Regions from separate parts of the Homo sapiens genome. Here region 2 is linked to region 1. The links come from fine-mapping of genetic effects on gene expression. A gene starts in region 1. The other region holds a variant in brackets. All regions are shown on one strand. Distances are from middle to middle.

Region 1 (8,323 bases):
GTGCACTCCCTTCTAGAGCTGTGCCCAGTGACAGGGGCCTGCTGCTGGCCCCTGGCCCAGCTACTCCACAATGCCCATCAGTTTCGTTTCTGTTCAGGAAATGTCAACTTTTGTTTCTTTTTTTTTGAGACGGACTCTCAGTCTGTCACCCAGGCTGGAGTGCAGTGGCACAATCTCGGCTCACTGCAACCTCTGTCACCTGGGTTCAACCAATTCTCCTGCCTCAGCCTCCCTAGTAGCAGGGATTACAGGAATATGCCACCGCACCTGGCTAATTTTTTGTATTTTTAGTAGAGACAGGGTTTCACCATGTTGGCCAGGCTGGTCGCAAACTCCTGACCTCAAATGATCCACCTGTCTCAGCCTCCCAAAGTGGTGGGATTACAGGTGTGAGCCACCGCACCTGACCAATATTTTTTAGTTACTCCTATAATTAGGCCCCCAGCTCTCCTGCCTGACCAAAACTTAGACCAGCTTGGACTTAGTCCTAGAAAGTTAGAAGGAAGAAACTTACAGCTACAAGAAGCTTTCATCCAGTTCTTCTGTGGACAGAGGGGTGAACGGAACCCTGGACAGTAGCCCTGCCCCAAGAGTCCTGAGCAAGACCTGCACCTAGAACCAGGTCAGGAGGGGAAGGGAAGGACTCGGGTTTGCTGTCCCTGGGACACATGGGGCAAGTGGGACAGAGAAAACAGGTTTTTGGTTGCTGGATGTCACTAGTTCAGGGGTAAGAGTGCAAGATGGGATCAAGAGTGGAAAGTGGAACCAGGCTGGAGAAGTTCAGGTTCACTTCACCACATAGCCCTTAAGACCCTGGGTGGACACTATTCTGTGCACGTTCTAACTTGACCATGGGGGTGGGAGGGAACACCCATGAGTGCAGAACACACACAGACGAAGGTTGCCCACCGAACAAAGATTTTTTGGGCTGTGTGTGGTGGCTGTAATCTCAGCATTTTGGGAGGCCAAGGCAGGTGGATCACCTGAGGTCAGGTGTTCGAGACCAGTCTGGCCAACATGGTGAAACCTCGTCTCTACCCAAAATACAAAAATTAGTTGGGTGTGGCCGGGTGTGGTGGCTTACACTTGTAATCTCAGCACTTTGGGAGGCCGAGGAGGGTGGATCACGAGGTCAGGAGTTCAAGACCAGCCTGGCCAAGATGGTGAAACCCCGTCTCTACTAAAAATACAAAAAATTAGCCAGGCATGGTGGCGGGTGCCTGTAATCCCAGCTACTCGGGAGGCTGAGGCAGAGAATTGCTTGAACCCGGGAGGTGGAGGTCGCAGCGAGCCGAGATTGTGCCACGACACTTCAGCCTGGGCAACAGAGCGAGACTCTGTCTAAAAAAAAAAAAAAAAAAAAATTAGCTGGATGTGGTGGTGGGCATCTGTAATCTCAGCTACTCAGGAGACTGAGTCAGGAGAATCACTTGAACCCAGGGGCTGGAGGTTGTAGTGAGCCGAGATCTCGCCATTACACTCCAGCCCGGGCAACAAGAGTGAAACTCTGTCTCAAAAAAAAAAAAAAAAAAAAAAGATTTTTCTGGGCCTGCAAACCCAGATGCCAGCATCGGGGGCCAGGAGGTGACCTAAGGGAGCGAACGGCTGCCTGGGGGTGGACTGGAAGGCAAGGGCCCTGTCTAAAGAAGGTGGTCATTCTCCCGCTGTGGCCTGAGGTTGCCACATCATCTGATTTTTCAAGAAGATCCAAAAATCAGCTTTTGTATGTGAAATTGCCTCCCCCCGACTTTTTTTAAGCACTCACAACAAAGACAAACATGTAAAATACATTGGACCAACAAAAATCGTCTATAGGCTGTATTTTACAGCACGTGCCCTACCATACGCTGGGCTCTGAATTAGACAATGCTGATGCAGTATGGACAAGACAAACCTGGTTCCCGTCTCCTGGAGCTGAGTCTAGATGTGGAGACAAACTCTCACTGCACATGTAGACACACGCCACTACCTCCAAGCCACCAAACCACCAACCAATCAAATTCAGCTCTCTACTACGTGCCAGCTCAGGTCAGCTCAAAAAGGGAGGTGGAGGCAGAAAACGGCTCCGGAGCCATCCTAGAGTGGGGCTTTTCAGGTCAGGGGAAGAGCACGTGACGGAGGCAGAGAATTAGAGGACACGGAGGAGATGGGCTAGGAGAGGTGGTTTAGGGCCAGGCTGCAGTCCAGAGACTATCTGGACTCAGCGACTTGATTCTGGACTCAATGGAGAGCCACTGCAGGTTAGTGAGGAGGGGAGGTCTTGCTCCTTGTCCTCCTCTGGCCTCCTCACAGTTTGCCCTGGACACAGTGACTCAAATTTCTGCTCTTCAGCCTCTGGTTCCACTGCCTTGCCTGTGGGGTGTGTGACAAAGCCCTGGGCTTCTGGGAACCCCCACTGGGGGGAAATGAACTCCTTCAGCAATGGGTAGAGCAAACCTGGATGCTTGTCCTGCCCAATTTCGATCTCCATCCGCCCTTCAAGCTGCAGAGAGGCTCACTCTCTGTCATTTTCTCTGGGAAGGGCCACGTGCTTGCCCAAGGTCACTCAGTCTTCAGGGCACCTGATTCCCCCACAGCCTGTGCTGAAGGTGGCTGCCTCAACTGTCCTGAAATTGGCAGGAGAGGCTGCCAGAGGTCTGCCCGCATCAAGTGCCCCCTACCCTCGTCTCCAGCTGGTCACATCCTCACCCTTGGGTCAGTGCCAGCAGCAGGTGGGGGTGGGGGCACTTGGTGCTGGGAAGGTGGGAGATGAGGAGTCAGCCACCCAGGCTCAGGGCTCCCAAGGCTGTAGCAGGACAGGGATCAGCTGCTTCAGGTGTAGGGTCAAGAATCTCTCAGCTGGACCTGGCCCGGTCCACTTCAACAGGCCCAATGGGACGTGCCCAGGGGTCTGATGATCAGGAGACATCAAGAAAGGAGATAGGAATGAAGTGGGGAAAAGGACCCTGACTCTAGCGCATGGTCCATCACAGACATTGGCGACAGGTTTGTTGAATGAATAAGTGAAGGAGCTACTGGCAGGGCTAGCTGTATCCTGGGTCCTGCCTTCCCGAGCCTCAGTTTGTGCACCTATCAAATGGGTCCAGCATCACTGCTTGTCTGCAGAAGGCTCAGAGAGAAGAGATGAGAGGAACTCCCAGCAGCCCAGAGTGTGTTCTTTCCATGCAGTCCAGCCCCTTCTCAGGATCTGATTCAGGATTTCAGGGTACAATGTCCCCTAGGGTCTCTCGGCTTCCTCATATGCGGTAGAGCCTGGGGTTCAGGACCTCACTGAGGGCCAGGCTGGGGTACGGCCGTGTGTACCACCTGGAAAGCCACAGTGAGACCCTGGAATTGGCCCTTGGTTGTCTGGGACACATTGAGCCAACCCTTGGTTTAACCTGGGTGTTCTCCAGGTTAGGAGGGGAAGGGAAAGACTTGGGTTGCTGTCCCTGGGACAAATGGGAACAGAACGGTGCCCTGACCTGAAATAGCTTCTTCATCTAGGCTACCTCTCCTCCCCAGAAACTAGCGCCTCACTTTGGGGGGTACTTACTCCCTCCCTGTCCCACAGGGAGTACAAAGTATGGTTTAGGTAAAGACCGCCAGTGTGGCCTGGGTCGGGCAGCAGAGTCACAGGGAAGATGCGATTCCCATTCATCCGCTCAAACACACCCCTTCCCCGCACTCTCACAGACAAAGACACACACCCGAAGCCCCAGCCATCACCCAGGGCCACATAAGGCAGCCCCCCTCACCTGTGGGCACCCCCAAATTTTCCCCTCTCGGGGGGACTTCACTAGAAGCTCAGCTTGGCCGTGGGGGAGGGGTATTCACACTCCAAGGACCTGGGGGCCAACCTCCAGGCTCGCAGCTTTTGGGGGGGGACTCTCCGCCCTCTTCCCCCCTCTCCATGGCACAACGGGCTCCACCACCACTCCTCCGTGGGGCCGGGGAGCTGCGCCCGAGCCTCAAGGCTAGGGAGTGGGGTGGGGGAAGGGAGAGGAGGAGGGGGCGGCTCCTCCAAGCGAGACACAAAGAGACGTCCTTCAGCCTCGGCTCCATGGCGACGCTGGGGAAGGGGGAGCGCGCAACCCGATACTTCCTTCCCCACCTGCAGGGCTATGGGGACCTCGGTGGCCACTCACCTGCCGCCCCTCACCTGGGCCCGGCTTACCTGGGCTGGGGCCGCGGGGACGCCGCGGCAGGGGGCCTGGGCGCCGTCGCGGTCTTCGTCTGCCCGGCCCCGGGGGCTCAGGGCGCCACGACCATGGACCGGGGTGCAAGCGGTGCCGCCAGGGGCTCAGTCGCCCAAGTCCTGGAGCTTTAGGGGGGGGATCCCCGAGGCTTCTTGCTGGTGAGAGTGTCTCTTGCTGTCCCCGGCTGCCTAGATTTGGGATTTCTATGTACCGGAGTTGGGGGGAATTGGGATCCCCTGATCTAGGGGCGTTCTGAGCTGGGTCTTCTTGTCTTGAGGTGTGGAGTTGTAATGACCGGATCTTGGGAGGGGGTTCTCGCAATCCCGGCCTGGGGGCACTGCGTTCTAGGTCTTGGGGCGGGGGCCCAGACTGAGGAGGGGGAGTCCTTGCGGTGCCGTAGGGGGCTTGCTGTCTTCTAAATACCGAGGAAGTCTCCGCTTTCCCCGCAGGGGAGTCGCTCGGTGTCGGATCCGGGAGGGCCCCCCCTCTTCCCCGAGGCTCGCCGGATCCTGGATGTGGAAGGGGGCTCCCCGCACTCCTCGGCTGCGGGGGCTTTAGTGGGTCCCGGCCACCGGCGGGCGCTGGAAGCCCCTCAGCCGCTGGGGGGCTCGGTCGCCGCCGCTACGAGCAGCCCGGCCCTGCGCTCCCGGCCCCCGGCCTGGCCCGGGCTCCGGCTGCGGCTCCAGCTCGCGCTCCGCCTGGCGCTCGGGCCCCGGCCCCGGCGCCCGCCCGGGCTGCGCTCCATCGCGGCATCGCGGCTCCGCCCTCCAGCCAGCGCGCACCTGCCCGCCCGGCCCGCGGCTCCGCCCTCCGGCTCGCGCGCCGCCGCCCGCCCCTTTGTCCGTCCCGCTCGGCGCGCGCCCTCGCGCAAGCGCGCTCACCCGCCGCGCGCCCGCCCTCCCGCCGCGCGCCGCGGAGCGCAGATTCTCCCCGCGCGGCGCCCCCACCCCCTTCCGGCCGCGCTGGGTCCTAGCGCCGGTGGCTCCCGAGCTGGCTCCCACCCCCCACCCCCCACCCACCCCACTCCTTTTCTAGGTCAGAGCCCACGAGGGGGCGAGAACGAGGTTACAGAGGACTCGGGGGAGTCTGAGAGGGTCACCTGGTCCAGCTTTCTGGGCCCTGCGGGACGAGACTGCCCCAGACTGTCCCGGTCTGTGCTAGTGGGGCGGAGCCTGTGTGTGTTTGAAGGAGGGAAAACAAATCCAGGTTCTGCATTCGGATATGCATTTCATTCATCCATGCGTCCGCCTGCCTGCCTGCGCTTCCATCCATCCATCCATCCGTCCGTCCATCCATCCATCCATCCATCCATGCATCCTATTTCCAGCGAGACGTCAGAGAACTCACAGTCTTCTTGGGGAAGAGGTCATAAACTTGGGCCTGGGTGGTTGCCCTATCCAACTGAGGTCGCCTTTGCGATCCCTGCTGCAAATAGGCAGTGACTAGTCCAGGAGTGCAGCTGGGAGGAACTGCTCGCCGGATAGAAGGGAAGAAAGGAGATTCTAGGCAGAGGTACAGCAGGTGTAAGGGATGTTGCATTGTCTGTTTGATAACCGGAAATTGGTGGCCTGGATGAAGTGGGTGGATGGGGACAGAGATGAGATAGGGACAGCTCGTCCTTCCAGGCCCTGTTCTTTCTCCTCCCTGCAGCTCACTCTTTCCCTAGTGAGAAAGCCCCAATAGGACGCCTTCCCTATTTCTTTCTTTTTTTTTTGTTTTTTTAGCTTCAAGCTTCAAAAGCATTTCTTTTTCATTCTTTTTTTTAATTATTATTATACTTTAAGTTTTAGGGTACATATGCACAACATGCAGGTTTGTTACGTATGTATACGTGTGCCATGTTGGTGTGCTGCACCCATTAACTCGTCATTTAGCATTAGGTATATCTCCTAATGCTATCCCTCCCCCTTCCCCCCACCCCACAACAGTCCCTGGTGTGTGATGTTCCCCTTCCTGTGTCCATGTGTTCTCTTTGTTCAATTCCCACCTATGAGTGAGAACATGCGGTGTTTGGTTTTTTGTCCTTGCGATAGTTTGCTGAGAATGATGGTTTCCAGCTTCATCCATGTCCCTACAAAGGACATGAACTCATCATTTTTTATGACTGCCCCTATTTCTTCTAAGTTTTTGATCAGGCTGTTTTCTCAACCCAGCGTAATCCTCCCAGCCACTCCCGACTGTTTCCAGAGCTTTAGGAGCCAGGGATTGCAAACGCAAGTACCTACAGGCGCAGACATGAGCGACTGGGGTCGCATGTAAAGTGATAGAGAGGGTGGAGAAGAGGGGAACTGGAGACATCGTGGGCTGTGCGTGGCTGGATGATATTCAAAGAGAAGCAGGACATCCAGAAATCTTCCAACTTTTAAATGTTTGAAACGAATTCCCAAAATTCGGAAATATTGAATGGGCCAAATGAAACACACTTTGCAGACAAATCTGGCCCCCAGACCATAGGTTGGCAACCTCTACCATTGAGAATATTGTTTCAGTTCTTAACTTGTCGGCCTCCTGCCTCTGTCTAGATTGTCTTTTTTCTCTTTTCTTTTCTTCTCTTCTCTTCTCCTTTCTTTCTTTTTCTCTCCCCGCCCTTCCTTCCTTCCTTTCTTCTTTCCTTCCTTCCTGCCTTCCTACCTTCCTTCTTTTTTTGACAGAGTCTTGCTCTGCTGCCCAGCCTGGAGTGCAATGGCACGATCTTGCCTCACCGCAACCTCTGCCTGCGGGGTTCAAGTGATTCTCCTGGCTCAGCCTCCTGAGTAGCTGGGATTACAGGCGTGTGCCACTATGCCTGGCTAATTTTTGTATTTTTACTACAGACGGGGTTTCATCATGTTGGCCAGGCTGGTCTCAAACTCCTGACTTCAAGTGATCCACCCACCTCAGCCTCCCAAAGTGCTAGGATTACAGGCATGAGCCACCGTGCCTGGTGATTGTCTTTTTTCTAGAATCCAAATCCTTTGGGATCATCAGGTCTGTAAAATACAAATGGGGTTGGGTTGCTGTCTTACATAAAACTGCCAAGGACTTCCTGTGTACCATCAGGGTAAAGTCTAACCTTACTTATCCTGGCATTCAAAGCCCTTAACATTTAGAGCCTGCTCTCCATTCCCCTACAAAGGACCTCTCTTCTCCATTCGGCCTTGACCTCAGCCACGCTATTCTAGGACATCTGCCTCTGTCTTTTTTTTTTTTTTTTGAGACAGGGTCTCACTTTGTCACCAAGGTTGGAGTGTAGTGGTGCAATCATGGCTCACTACAGCCTCAACCTCCTGGGATCAAGTGATCCTCCCACCTCAGCCCCCTAAGTAACTAGGACTACAGGTGTGCACCACCAGGCTCAGCTAATTTTTGTATTTTTTGTAGAGATGGGGTTTTGCCATGTTGCCCAGGCTGGTCTTGAACTCCTGAGCTTAAGCCTTCCATCCACCTCAGCCTCCCAAAGCGCTGGGATTGCGAGTGTGAGCCACCACGCCCAGCCCTGACATCTGTTTGTTTTTGTTTTTTTTTTTTTTCTGAGATGGAGTTTCACTCTTATTGCCCAGGCTGGAGTGCAATGGCACAATCTTGGCTCACTGCAGCCTCCGTCTCCCGGGTTCAAGTGATTCTCCTGCCTCAGCCTCCCAAGTAGTTGGGATTACAGGTGTGTACCACCACGCCTGGCTAATTTTTGTATTTTTAGTAGAGATGAGGTTTTGCCATTGTTGGCCAGGCTGGTCTTGAACTCCCGACCTCAGGTGAGCTGTCCACCTCAGCCTCCCAAAGTGCTGGGATTACAGGTGTGAACCACCTCACCCGGCCTGACATCTGCTTTTGATACCTCCACGCCTTTGTCTACTCGGTTTCCTCTGTCTGGAACACCTTTCCCTTCCTCCTTGTTTTCCAAACAAGTTCTCTTCTAAGAACTCTGTGTCTTCCCTTCCTCTCCCACACTCCTTGTCCTGCCAATGTAGAGGAGTTTCGGATTTCATTCTAACTTTGTTCTAATCCTCTCCAAGGCCTTAGTGCCGTAAATAAACTAATAGAGGGATTTGAGTTATTGGGTGTGCAGAAGAGGGGGCTGGAGAGGGAGAAAGCAGGAAGAAAACATTCTGTGTCTAAAAGCTGAGTCTCAGAATGTTAGCACTTAGAGAGCACTTTCCTCTTTTTGC
Region 2 (8,323 bases), 24 kb before region 1:
CCCGGGCTGCTCCCGGGTCCGAGGGCGGCGGAGGCGACTCAGACGCAGATCTCGATGGCCGTGGCCAGCACCACCTGCCCTTTGCTCTTGTCCGCGCGGCCGTCGGTCCGGCCGGGGGGCCCCTGGGGAGCTAGGCCGGGCTCGGGCACAGGCACCGGCACGGGCACTGGCACCGGCACCGGCACGGGCAAGGGCACCGACCCGACGGCGGGGGGCGCGGGCCGGGAGCCGCTGCCGCTCTCGGTCAGCACCGTCCGCTTGAGCGGCCCAGGCGCCTCGAGGCGCAGTGGCCCGGCGGCGGGCGGGCGGTCCCCGGGGGGCTTGCGCGCGCGGTGCGAGGGCCGGCGGCGCAGCTCGGACGTGAGCTCGTGCTTGAGGAAGCGGAACACCTCCTTGGCTGGGCCGCGGCGCTCGGGCTCCAGGGCCAGTAAGCGCTGGAACATGCGCAGCGCGGGCTCGGTGAAGCGGCGCCACTGCGAAGGCAGCCCCGGCAGGCGGCCCCGCTGCCAGCGCACGAACTCCTCGAAGAAGGCGTCGGCGCCCGACGCCGCCTCCCACGGGAAGTTGCCGGTGAGCACGCAGAAGATGAGCACGCCGAAGGCCCACACGTCCACGCCCGTGTCCACCGCCAGCCCGTCGGCGCGGCCCGCCTGGCACACCTCAGGCGCCGTGTAAGGGATGGTGCCGCTCACGCGCTTGACGCGGCAGCCCACGCGGCGCGTCATGCCGAAGTCGGCCAGCTTTACGCGGCGGCACTCGCGGTCGAACAGCAGCACGTTCTCGGGCTTGATGTCGCGGTGCACCAGCTGCCGCCCGTGCATGAAGTCCAGCGCCAGGCCCAGCTGCTGCACACAGCGCTTCACCGTGTCCTCAGGGAGCCCCACCTGCGGGCGGCCGGGGGAAGCCGCGCTGTTTCCAGCTCTCCAGCGCCCGCCCCGCCGCCCTCCCCTCCAGCTCCCTCTCTAGCAAGGCGGTTTTCGCCTCCCACCCTGTCCCCAGTAACTGGGGCGACCGCGCAGACGCGGCCCGGATGCTGCTGAGCGCCCTTTCCCCCGCTGTCTCATCCAATCCTCATAGTGGCTACCATGCCTGCTTCTCCTATGGGGACATCGGGGCTCCAGGAGGGACACGCGGCTCTCCAGGAGGTTGATGAGGGGGTCCGCGGCGCCCTCCACCTGCTGTCATTTTGCCCTGCCTGCTAGATACTTATCTCGTCGGTCTTCCCCAACTAGAACGGGGCTCCCTGAGCTTCCCGTCCTGTTCCCTGCTGTGTCCGTGCATCTGTGTCTCCAGATTCTGGCATGTAGTAGGTGCTCAGCAAAGAAGGAGGACCTGCTCCGAAGGTCTCATCACTCAGCCAGCAAGTGGCAGAGCAGATTTAAAGCTAGTGCCTGGAACCCTCCCCCACCGTCCCGGTTCCAGGGTCGCTTCCTCTGAGGGCCCCTTCCCAGGTGGATCTGACACCTCTCCTCTTGTGTAGCCCCAGGGGAGGGCCCAGTGACTTCATCCCATCATTCTCACTGTCTCCTTTTAGGCACTCATCTCCATCTGTTATTATCTGGCCCGCTGTGGAGTGTCAGTTTCCCACTAGAACAGGGACTTTTGTCTTCCTTACTGCACATCCCCACCTCCCCAAATGGTAACTGACATACAGCAGGCACCCAGTAAATACTTGTTAATTAAATGGTCTGACTCCACTCCCACTCTCACACTCTGGGACCCTGAAGACCCTTTCCCCACCCTATGCCACCATCCCGAGTACCTGGGGAGGGATGATGTCAAACAGGTCCCCAGCAGGTGCGTACTCCTGGGCAAAGACGTAGCAGTCCTCTGTCTCAAAGACCACGTCAAAGACCTTGATGATGAAGGGGCTGGAGGAGAGGCTGTTGGTGATGCTCACCTCCCGTAGGAAGTTCTTCAGCTTGGTTTTGCTCTTGTTCACAAACTTCAGTGCCATTTTTGTGCCTGATGGGAGCAACAGCAACAGGGTTGAAGCCCCCTCTCCCAGTGCCTCCGCACTGGATGCACCCATGCCTGTCTCTGGACCCTGGTGCAACAGGGTCCCCAGCAGGCATGACTGTCCTCATCTCACGGATGGGAACAGACCCAGAGAGAGGAAAGGACTTGCCCAAGGCCATGCAGGCAGGGTCAACCTGAGCCTTCTACACCCACTCTGCAGCTCTCCAAGAGGAGGGGGCGAGGGGGCCTGTGATGCCCTCCACCTCTCTCATTTTGTCCTGCCCGCCATATGCTTATTTATCTTGTCAGCCTACCCCATCTAGAACGGGTCTCCCTAAGCTTCCTGTCTTGCTAAATGGATGAATGAATAAGAAATGAGACACTGCAAGGCATGTGTCCACAACTCTGTGCCTGGGCAAGCATCTGTGCCCATCTGGTACATAGCTGGGTGGAGCACACATGTGTGTCCACGGAGCATTTACACATCGCAGGCCCTGCCTTCAGCACTGCACATTCACAACTCACACTTCATTATGATTGTATGGGTTGTGCACTAATGTTACCCTATTTTACAGAGAAGGACTCTGAAGCACAGAGAGGTGAAGTCACTTGCTCAAGGTCACACAGCAAGCAAGTAACAAAGCTCAGGTGACCCCATGTTAGGTGCTCCTCCTGCTGCCCTCAGTTAGCACAAAGCCCCTGGACCCAAGCGCGTGCAGCTGTGGGAGCTCACACAGCCCCAGCCCCTGGCTGGCTGGGTGGCACGGCTGTGACCTACAGTGTGGGGGAGGTATCAAGCTCAGTGACTAAGCGACAAGGCTCTGGAGATGACTCCTGGGGTCTCGTTTTGGTTCACAGCCTCTGTAGCTGCAGGGCATTGGCTATGTGGCTGAATTGGCCTAGGTCTCCCTGTCCTCACCTGAGAGATGGTGATTGCAATATTGACCTCACAGGTCCTTCCACCACCCATTAAGTGTGGCACCCTGTTCCTGAGGAACCACCCTCACTCTCCATCCACCTTCCTGGGGCCAGACATCCCTGAGACGCTGGTGATACTCAGACACAGCCGGCAGCCCTGCCCTCCCCAGACACTCCTGGCACAGCCCCTTGGCTGTCTCAAAGTCACCCCAGATGGCCCCACAGCAGCCCATCCTGTACCCTGGCCACTCTGCCCCGGATTCCTCCCTTGCCCCATCTGCCCAGTCTCTTTCCCCCTGGGCTGCCTCAGGCCTCATCCTCTACATCTGGCCCCTGACCCTGCCTCCTGGCTTCCACAGAGCACCAGAGAGCCCCGGCCCAGCTGCAAGGTCATGTCCCCCAACCCTGACCTCCCAGCCCTGCCCCACCCCAACCTCTCAGCCCTGCCACCCTGCACTTGTTCACCTGTGCCCTTGTAGACCACCAG[G/A]TCAACCTTCCCATAGGTGCCTTTGCCCAGCTCCCGGACTAGTTCGTAGTGCTTGGTGACGTCGCTGGCGGCCAGTGTGCGGAGAGTCAGGGCCTGCATGTCTTCAGTGAGAAGGGGCACACCGGCACCAGGCCCAGGGGCAGTCCCCGGCCCACAGCAGGTCAGGGAGCGGGGCGGCTCAGGCTCTGGGCAGCCCACGCTCATCTTCTCCCTGTTGGGTAGGGGTGGTGAGCATGAAGTGTGACATCAGGCAAGGGTCCCCTCCTCCAGCCCCTCTGCCCTCCCCAGAACCCAGAAAACTTGAGGATGGGCCCGGATGCCAGGCCCAAGATAACCACAAGGGGGCGACAAGCATCTTGGTCGCGTCGCCTTCCCCAAAGCCTCAGGGGCCAGGCCTGAGTCAGCTCCCCGAAGACCAGTCACTGCCAGACCCTGCGCTTGGTGGCACCAGCCCCTCTGCCTCATGCTGCCACCCACACACAGTGTCAGGCAAGGCCCCTGTTTATGTCACACAGACACAGCCAGATACCGAGTTCACACGGGTACTCCCATTCAGAAGCGTTGGTTTTATTTGGATTGTAGAGAGGGGGGTCCCACTATGTGGCCCAGGCTGGTCTCGAAATCCTGGATTCAAGTGATCCCTCTGCCTGGCCCTCCCAAAGTGCTGGGATTACAGGCATGAGCTACTGCACCCGGCTTGTTGTTATTTTTATTTCTGAGACAGGGTCTTGCTCTGTCACCCAGGCTGGAGTGCAGTGGCGCAATCACAGCTCACTGCAGCCTCGACCTCCCAGGCTTAAGCTATCCTCCCATCTCAGCCTCCTGAGTAGATTGGATTACAGGCATGTGCCACCACACCTGGCTAATTTTTATTTATTTATTTTAATTTTTAGTTCTGGGGTACATGTGCAGGATGTGCAGGCTTGTTACATAGGTAAACGTGTGCCATGGTAGTTTGCTGCACCTATCATGCCTAATTTTTAATTTTTTTTTTGTAGAGTTGGCATCTCTTTATGTTGCCCAGGCTGGTCTAGAACTCCTGGCCTCAAGTGATCCTTCCACCTCAGCCTCCCAAAGCACTAGGATTACCAGCATGAGCCACTGTGCCCAGCTTATTCACAAGTACTGACGAAGCACCTGCTGTTCCCCAGGGCTCTCCAAAGCCTGGAGGACACAGCATGGAACAAACACCTAGGATTCCCTGCCACCATGGGGCTTACACCCCAGGGGGAGAAGGGCAGTAGACACAGTGATCACATCAGTTGTATATTACGATCGAAAGTGGTATGGCTGTCCATAAGGTAGGGGGTGGGGAAGAGGTCTGAGGGCCATGATTGCATCATCACATACCTTGGCCACGTGGTCTCAGGCCAAACTGGCAGGATGGTATAGATGTGGCCACACCATCCCACCATACACATGGCCACACATCAGCACAGCCTGGCAGTGCCTCCCCCACTGCAGACGACCTCACCACCCGACTAATGAACACTGCGCCTGGCCAACCTGACTTTTTCAAAAATTGTATTTAGGCTGGGCATGGTGGCTCACAACTGTAATCCCAGCACTTTGGGAGGCTGAGTGGGCGGATCACTTGAGGTCAGGAGTTCGAGACCAGACTGGTCAATGTGGCGGAACCCTGTCTCTACTAAAAATACAAAAATTAGTTGGGCATGGTGATGCACGCCTGTAATCCCAGCTACTTGGGAGGCTGAGGTAGGAGAACTTCTTGAACCCTGGAGGTGGAGGCTGCAGTGAGCAGAGATCGTGCCACTGCATTCCAGCCTGGGCGACAGAACAAGACTCCGTCTCAAAAAAAAAACTGTATTTGTATTGAGACAGGGTCTTGCTCTGTTGCCCAGGCTGAAGGGCAGTAGGATGATCATAGCTCACTGCAGCCTCGAACTCCTGGGCTCAAGGGATCCTCCTGCCTCAGCCTCCTGAGTAGCTGGGACTGCAAGCATGCGCCACCACATCTGGCTGATGTTTAAATTTTTTGGAGAGATGGGGTCTTGCTATGTTTTCCAGGCTGGTCTCGAACTCCTGAGATCAAGCGATCCTTCCACCTTAGCCTCCCAAAGTGCTGGGACTACAGCGTGAGCCACCACTTGGGCTAAGACCTGACTTGTCATGTGGGTGACAGTGAACTAACTCTCCATCCGTGGCCTTCATTTCTTTATTTCCCCTTATCTCATGTCATTTTTCTAGTTTTATTGAGGTATATTTGGTGTTCAAAAAACTACACATATTTGAAGTGTACAGTGTGATGATTCTGACATATGTATACATCCCTGCCGTCGAGACCACGAACACATCCATTACCCCAAAGTTTCCTTTTGCCCCTTTCTAAAACCCCATCCCCCCAACCCCGGTCTTCCAGGCAACCACTCTGGGCATTCATTTCTCATCTGTAAATGGAGAGAGGTAGACTATGGGGGATGAGCCTTTCCCAGGCGCAGGCACACATGAGTATGTATCTGTGTGTGCACTGGCAAGAGAGGCCAGGGCTGCCTCCTTTAGAAGCTGCCACCAGCCTCCAGCCCCTGAGCACTGCTTCCGGGTGCAGCCTCCCTCTACCCTCCCTGCACTCCCTTCTCCCTTTTTTCCCTTTTTTTTGAGACGGAGTTTCTCTCTTGTCACCTGGGCTGGAGTGCAGTGGTGTGATCTTGGCTTTTTGCAACCTCCGCCTCTTGGGTTCAAACAATTCTCCCACCTCAGCCTCCCAAGTAGCTGGGATTACAGGTGTGCGCCACCATATCTGGCTAATTTTTGCATGTTTAGTAGAGATGGGGTTTCACCATGTTGGCCAGGCTGATCTCGAACTCTTGACCTCAGGTGATCCATCGCCTGGGCTTCCCAAAGTGCTGGGATTACAGGCGTGAGCCACCGCACCTGGCCCCTTCTCCCTCTAATCCCAGACATGTCACTCCAGTGTCCCTAGCCTGCTCCTAAGCACCCCTGCACCCTGAAGAACAATGACCACAGCTCCCTCTGGGAGAAGGCACAGATGTAGAGCCAGACAGCCTGGGTCTGAGTCCCAACTCTGTCACTTGCTAGCTGGATGTCCTTGGGCAAGTTACTTCCTCTCTCTGTGCCTCAGTTTCCTCATCTATACAAAGGATATAATAATAGTGCGTTGGGCCACTCAAGGTAGCTCACGTCTGTGATCCCAGCAATCTGGGAGGCCAAGGTGAGAGGATTGCTTGAGGCCAGGAGTGTGAGACCGGCCTGAGCAAGACCCTGTCTCCACAAAAAAAAAAAAAAAAAAAAAGTTAGCTGGGTGTGGTGGTGCACACCTGTGGTCCCAGCTACTCAGGAGGCTGAAGCAGAAGGATCGCTTGAACCCAGGAATTCGAGGCTGCAGTGAGCTATGATCACTTCACTGCACTCCAGCCTGGATGACAGAGTGAGACCCTATCTAAATATAATAATAATAATAATAATAACAATAATAACGACAACAACAACAACAACAGTGCCTTCTCCCGATGCGTTCTTGCGAGGGTTAAGTAAGTTAACAGGCGTGAAGCCCTGGCATGTGGCATGCAGTAAGTGCTCCATAGGTGCCCAGGCTTGCTGTGTTGTTCTCGTCATCATCACCGGCTTTCTCTCTGGCTGAGCAAGGGTGGGCGGGCGGGTGGGCATTGCTGGAGGCTGGGAGGGGGTGAGCACTCCATGAGCCCCGCATCCTCTCGCAGCCCAGCGGCTCCCTTCCAGGCCCCAAGCCTCTCCTCCTCCTCTGCCTTCCCCTTCACTCTCGGCACGACCCAGCCTCCCACTTCACACGGAGAGGAGGAACATCAGGAGAGAACTTCCTGGCCTCCCACCCAGCCCCAAACGGAGCTCCATCTGCACCGTCCTCTCAGCTGGCTGGGGAGGAAGGAACCCTCCCCTCCCCGCCCTGCAGCCTGCTCCCATCCCTGTCTTCCCAGCCTCCTGCCTCCCTCCATTCATGAACCAGCTCATCTCCCCTGTCAGTATGTTTTTTTTTTTTTTTTAAGACAGGGTATCGCTCTGTCACCCAGGCTGGAGTGCAGTGGCGTGATCTCAGTTCACTGCAACTTCTGTATCCCGGACTCTGGCAATCTTCCCATCTCAGCCTCCTGAGTAGCTGGGACCACAAGGTGTACGCCACCACACCTGGCTAATTTTTGTATTTTTTGTAGAGATGGGGTTTCACCATGTTGCCCAGGCTGGTCTTGAATTCCTGACCTCAAGCAATCCTCCAAAGTGCTGGGATTACAGGTGTGAACCACCGCACCCAGCCTCCTGTCGTTTTTTAAATTAAATTAAATTTTTTTTAAACAGGGTCTCGCTCTGTTGCCCAGGCTGGAGTGCAGTGGTGCCCCCATGGCTCACTGAAGCCTCCAGCTCCTGGGTTCAAGCAATCCTCCCACCTCAGCCTCCTGAGAAGGTGGGGCCACAGGCACGTGCCACCACGCCCAGATAATTTTTTTTCGTATTTTATTTATTTTATTTTGAGACAGAGTTTCCCTCTTGTTGCCTGGTGCAATCTTGGCTCGCCGCAACCTCTGCCTTCTGGGTTCAAGCGATTCTTTTGCCTCAGCCTCTGGAGTAGCTGCAATTACAGGCATGTGCCACCATGCCTAATTTTTGTATTTTTAGTAGAGACAGGGTTTCTCCATGTTGGTCAGGCTGGTCTCGAACTCCCGACCTCAGGTGATCTGCCCGCCTCAGCCTCCCAAAGTGCTGGGGTTATAGGCGTGAGCCACCGCATCCGGCCCATATTTTATTTTTTGTAGAGATGGGGTCTCACCTTGTTGCCCAGGCTGGTCTTGAACTCCTGGGCTCAAACAGTCCTCCTGCCTCGGCCTCCCAAAGTGCTGGGATTACAGGCCTGAGCCACTGTACTTGGCCTCCTTGCCCCTGTTCCAACAGGAACTTCCTCTCCAGCAACTGTCTTTTCTTTCCTAGCTCATTTCCACCTAAACATGTGCC

Evidence for each region. PIP is the estimated chance that this variant, and not a neighbour inherited with it, causes the effect.
Region 2: its variant is fine-mapped to the expression of SBK1 in whole blood (TOPMed, PIP 0.98).

What each region holds. Positions count from the first base shown.
Region 1 is chr16:28,289,134-28,297,456 of GRCh38, reverse strand. It overlaps SBK1 (SH3 domain binding kinase 1), which reads right to left and starts at 4,932. Exons shown (of 4, transcript NM_001024401.3): 1 at 4,157-4,932. LOC124903670 (a long non-coding RNA gene) reads left to right here and starts at 5,392. Exons shown (of 2, transcript XR_007065033.1): 1 at 5,392-5,690. RefSeq lists silencers at 4,832-5,061, 5,269-5,440.
Region 2 is chr16:28,312,637-28,320,959 of GRCh38, reverse strand. It overlaps SBK1 (SH3 domain binding kinase 1), which reads right to left. Exons shown (of 4, transcript NM_001024401.3): 2 at 3,343-3,575; 3 at 1,763-1,965; 4 at 1-884. The coding sequence starts at 3,568. The coding sequence ends at 39. Among named protein-coding and RNA genes, the nearest start is that of SBK1, 24 kb to the right of the region's middle. The variant G/A (reference allele first, on the strand shown) is at 3,365.